Regions from separate parts of the Homo sapiens genome. Here region 1 is linked to region 2. The links come from fine-mapping of genetic effects on plasma protein levels. Region 2 holds a variant in brackets. A gene starts in the other region. All regions are shown on their forward strands.

The links. PIP is the posterior inclusion probability: the model's chance that the variant is causal. The UK Biobank Pharma Proteomics Project read protein levels with antibody pairs (Olink). The fine-mapping took linkage between variants from a reference panel, not from the people measured, so its PIPs are less certain.
Region 1: GFRA2 starts here. The variant in region 2 is fine-mapped to the plasma level of the GFRA2 protein (UK Biobank, PIP above 0.99).

The regions. Positions count from the first base shown.
Region 1 is chr8:21,787,831-21,790,833 of GRCh38, forward strand. GFRA2 (GDNF family receptor alpha 2) reads right to left here and starts at 1,045. Exons shown (of 9, transcript NM_001495.5): 1 at 290-1,045. The coding sequence starts at 329.
Region 2 is chr10:100,314,270-100,316,769 of GRCh38, forward strand. The region is part of intron 2 of PKD2L1 (polycystin 2 like 1, transient receptor potential cation channel); the gene reads right to left. Among named protein-coding and RNA genes, the nearest start is that of PKD2L1, 15 kb to the right of the region's middle. The variant G/A (reference allele first, on the strand shown) is at 1,453.

The DNA.
Region 1 (3,003 bases), not on the chromosome of region 2:
GGCGTGTGAGCGAGCGCGGGTGTGTGTGTGCGTGCACAGTGTCTGCGGGGCTGGTTCGGATGTTGAGTCTCCCTCCCGATCCCCCTGCGTCGCCAGCCAGCCGCGGCTCCGGTCCCTCGTCCGCGTCCCTGCCGCCCGGCCCCGCTCGGTTCGCCAGCACCGGGCCCGGCTAGCTCCGCGGCGCGCTCTCCCCGCCGACCTCCCGCCAGCCCCCCACCGGCGCTCCGCTCGCCCCCCGCCTCCCCGGCTTCTCGCCTCCCCCTCGAGCTCGCCGCCCGCAGGTACTCACCTAGAAAGAAGAAGAGGCAGAAGACGTTTGCCAAGATCATGTTAAATAAATCCCACCGTTTTTTTGTCTTTCTCCCTTGGGTAAAAAAAAATAATAGTAGTAACAACAACAATAATAATAGGCAAGCAGTGGTAATCAGCCCCAAATCCAATGCGGAGATCCCAGCTAGTCCACCCGATGAAGATCCCGAGTCCTGCGATTCTCGCCTCTGGCTGGAGGGGGTGGGGTGAGAGGCGGGCGATGGGCTGCTGCCTCTCGACGCCCCCCTTGCCCGCTACAATCAAATATACGCGTATCTGTGTATCGGCTTTCTAAGCCAACAGCCCAGTCCTGGGGTCAGCCCTCCCCTCCAATCGTCCGGGAAGGCGTGAGTCCCCGCGGGTCCAATTCCCCTGCGCTTCCCAGGAGGGGCCTGGGGAGGTGGGGAGAGAGGCGATTTGCGAGTGAAGGGCTGGAAGGAAGCGGCGAGGGAGGGGGTCGGAATAAAATGCAAATAGAAAAGAAATCCACAGACGGGTGTCAGCGCCCAAGAACAATCCAGTCGGAGCTTCGAGGACGAGAGACTGGAGTCGCTTCTTTCGCACCAAGACGAAGACAAGATTCAAAAAAATCTTCTCCCGCTAACCCTTGCTCGGCTCACTTTTTTCTAATGGAATTCCAGTGACCGTGTGTCTCTGCGTGCGTGTGTCTTTCTCTCTCCTCTCTCTCTCTCTCCTCTCCCTCGCTCGCTCTTTGCTCTCGCTCTCTCCAGCTCTCCCTCGCTCTCCTCTCTCCCTCCCCCTTCTCCCACTCTCCCTGCTCCTCCCTCCGCCCGCCCCCTTCTCCCTTCGCGGCTCCCTCGCCCGGGCTCTCGCGCCAGCGCCCCTCTCCTCCGCCCCGGGCTCGGCGCTCGGGCTCCCAGGCGGCTGGCGGCGCGGGGCGCGGGGCGCGGGAGCGCGGCGGAGCTACGATGCTCTGCAGCGGCGGCGGCGACAAGGCGAAGGCGGTGGCGGTGGCGGTGGCGGCGGCGGCGGCGCCGGGGATCGCGGGCCGAGAGGAGAGCCCAGCCGCCGGCTCCCTCGGCTCAATCGCCCGCCCTTCCTGGGACTGACCTGCTGCCTTGGCCGGAAACTGACTGGCTCCCCCGGCTACGGCTCGGGCTCGAACCCACTCAAGCGTCGGCACCCTCCTCCTCCTCCCCCCGCAGCTCTCCCCACCCTGGGGACCGGCTGCGCCCTCCAACCCCCACTGCCCCTGCCCCCGCCCCCTGCGCCGCTGGGTCTGGGAAGCCTGGGGAGCTGAGCTGAGGCTGGAGGGCGCGGAGTCCGTGGGGCCCGAGCCATCCGGGGGCTCGGGGGGCAGGGCGTTAGAAAAACCCCAGCCGGTGGCCCGGGTCTGAGGGGGGCTCCACCCTCCGTGGGCTAAGGCGTCCCTGCGCCCAGGAGCCGAGGCCGACAAAGCGTCTCCCCGATGGTGCCAGGGAAAGGAATTATCCCCTTCGGCGCCGGCCCCGCGCGCCCCCGAACCCAACGCATCCTGCCGGCCCCGGCCTAGCCCCGCGCGCACATACACGTGTGCTCTCCGCGCGGACCTCGGGAACTTTGCCCTCACGCCCGCGGCGCGCTTGCCTCCCGCCCGCCCCGGCCTCCACCCCTTCGAGATGCCCCTTCCCCAGCCGGTCTCCCCTCCCCCCGGCTCGGGAAGAAGCCTGCTGGGCCAGGGCGCCCTGACCACCTCCTCGGAGGCCGGCAAACCTGCCTGAACCGCCCCAGAGGAATCGGGCAGGGGCTCGCACCCCACCCCGGCAGGAGGGCCCCGAGACCGACCCGGGCCGGGGCTCCGCAGCCGGCTGGGCTCCGAGGAGCTCGTCCCGAGGCAGCTCCCGGCTCCCTAGGCTCCGGGGTTGGGGGGTTCCTCCTCCCCTAGCCGGGAAGGGGGCGATTGATCCATCTGTCGGTGGGCCGGGCTCACCGGCGTGTTTTAGTCGCAGAATTTACAATAAACGCCCAGAAGGACCTAAAAGGAAGCGTCTGGCTGGGAAAGGGCTGGAGGAGAGGTGCGGCTGCGGTCACGTTCCGGCGAGAGCGGGAGAGGCGCGGGGTCGCGGTCGCGCGAGGGCTCACACCCACGCAGCCCGGCATCCCCCGGCCCTCGCGCCACGTTCCTCGCACTCAGCTCGGCGCGCACACACGGTGTCCTGGGGTGGGGTACACGCAGCGCCTCAGAAACTTTTCGTGCTGCCCAAAACAATCTGGGCTGCACGTAACATGAATTTGATAGTACCGTTTAAGATGCATTCTTAAATAACAAGACTCTGGAATCCAGTAAATGCTAGAAATCGACTTGGACGAGAAGGGAGGGGTCACTAACAAAACCAGCAGCCTTAGCTATTGGGAAAGCTAGAGGGAGCAACTTCCATCTTGAGGATTTAGGCGGGAAGGCGGCTGCTCCCGGCCTTGGAAGCACAGAGAGCGAGTCTCCTGTGAACGCCTCTTTCCTGTGGTCCGTCCTGGGGCATCGACCTTCCTCCCTCCATCTTCTCCCCCAGCCATCCAGTTGTGCCTGCTTCGAGCCTAGGCCCTAGCTGGGTAGTGACGAGTCTGGGACAGAGGGCTTAGGGATTGGAGTTGGGGAAAGCCCCCTTCAGGCCTGCCCTCCCTGTCATTCCTCCAAGCCTCTCATGTTCTAGGAAGTGACTTCGCATCTGACAAGGTCTCTTGGCTTTTTTTCCAAAA
Region 2 (2,500 bases):
AAAAAAATCTCAAGAAGCCATAGGCTTGTACCCAGAACAGGAAGACATGGAAAAGCCTGTGAGACAAAGGACCAGGGAGAAAAGAAGAGGAGTCAAAAGCTGTGGGCAGAGGTAGGCGAGAAGAAAGCAAAACAGACCAGTGCCTGGGGAGAGAGAAGAGAGAGAAGGAAGCAGGCACGGGGACAGCCAGTCCAGGACCGAGAAGTATCCAGCAAGAAGCACTGTTTCTGATCCTGGGCTTCTCTGCAGTGTGATTTATCTTTCACAAAGTGCATCCAGAGATCCTCCTTCACTGACTTTATTGCCATTAGCCATCAGCACTTTAGGGGAGCCTCCTATACTACATTTATCACAATCAGCGGACGTTCCACCTCACAGACGGCATTGCTGTTGACTTTACACATCCTTCTAGTGTAAACCAACAGAAGCTTCTTTATCTAAAATTCATGTATATTTATATATGTCTAGAAAACAATTGAAATGGGCCGGGTGCGCTGGCTAGCCTGTAATCCCAGCACTTTGGGAGGCTGAGGTGGGTGGGGATCACCCAAGGTCAGGAGTTCAAGACCAGCCTGGCCAACATGGTGAAACCCCATCTCTACTAAAAATACAAAAATTAGCCAGGCGTGTTGGTGTGAGCCTGTAGTCTCAGCTACTCCAGAGGCTAAGGCAGAAAAGAAAGAAAGAAAGAAAGAAGGAAGGAAGGAAGGAAGGAAGGAAGGAAGGAAGGAAGGAAGGAAGGAAGGGAAGGGAAGGGAAGGGAAGGGAAGGGAAGGGAAGGGAAGGGAAGGGAAGGGAAGGGAAGGGAAGGGAAGGGAAGGGAAGGGAAGGGAAGGGAAGGGAAGGGAAGAGAAAACAGTTGAAATGATTATATACCAAACTAGGAACAGTGATTACTGAGAGGGATTTTTTATTTTGTTTTATTTTATTTTACTTTAAGTTCTGGGGTACATGTGCAGAACGTGCAGGTTTGTTACATAGGTATACATGTGCCACGGTGGTTTGCTGCACCTATCAACCCGTCATCTAGGTTTTAAGCCCAGGTTTGTCACATAGGTATACATGTGCCATGGTGGTTTGCTGCACCTATCGACTCATCATCTAGGTTTTAAGACCTGCACGCATTAGATATTTGTCCTAATCCTCTCCCTCCCCTTGCCCCCTACCCCGTGACAGGCCTGGGTGTGTGTTGTTCCCCTCCCTGTGTCCATGTATTCTCGTTGTTCAACTTCCACTTATGAGTGAGAGCATGCGATGTTTGGTTTTCTGTTCCTGTGTTAGTTTGCTGAGAATGAAGAGGGATTTTCACATTCTCTATGTTATTTGACTTTTAAAAAACAAGGACTATGTATTAGGTAAAAATTTAATAAATATATTACCAGTCTGATTTTCTTTGTAGGGGAAAGGGGGTAGAATTATGTTGTAATAGAATGAGAAGAAATGCTGGTTTAC[G/A]CCTTTTTCCTCTTACTTGCCCCTTGAGACTCTGACTATGGCAAAACTCTTGCATATTCATAGCCTGAGGCCTTAGTTGGCTGGCGCTACCTCCTCCATCCCCTGCCTCCTCCAGGCTGACAGCCAGCACTATTAAAACTAACAGGCAAGCAAGCAAATGGCAATGACTTTAGGCCTCCCTGGCAATGACTTAAAAACAGTTAAAAACAGTTTTAACACTGTTAAAATAAGCAGGCAAGCAAATGGCGATGACTTTGGGCTTCCCCAGACACGAATGGTACCTGTCTCTGGGACCTTCAAGATTTCCCAGCTCTCCCTGACCACTTTGTCTCCCACTTCTTACCATGGTCCCAGTGCACCCTCCACTGTAGCGCTCATCACATTCTATGTCACTGTTTGTTTACATGTCAGCCTTCCTTACTCCTTGAAGGCAGAAGATGTGTCTCGGGTATTTCTTTTGTTTTTTTTGAGACGGAGTCTTGCTTTTGTTGCCCAGGCTGGTGTGCAATGGCACGATCTCAGCTCATTGCAAACTCTGCCTCCCAGGTTCAAGCAATTCTCCTGCCTCAGCCTCCGGAGTAGCTAGGATTACCGGCATGCGCCACCACGCCTGGCTAATTTTGTATTTTTAGTAGAGATGGGGTTTCTCCATGTTGGTCAAGCTGGTCTCGAACTCCTGACCTCAGGTGATCTGCCTGCCTCGGCCTCCCAAAATTCTGAGCCACAGGTGTGAGCCATCTTGCCCAGCCTTGTCTCAGGTATTTCAAAACCCTCAGCACTTGGCCTAGGGCCTGGCACATAGTAAGACTTCATAAATGTTTGAATGAATGAATGTGTGACTATCCAGGATCTCAAACTTAGTTTCAGCATTTTGCTAATAAGCTCTCTTTGTCTCATCTGTTCTTTTCCTCCATGCTATGAAATAATCTAATTTGACCAGCTTAGACTCAGTCTCTGAGCCAGTGGTTTACACACATTTTGTTCTCAGAACCCCTTTGCAACTTCAATATTTTGAGGACTACAAACAGTTTTCATTTATTTGGGTTAT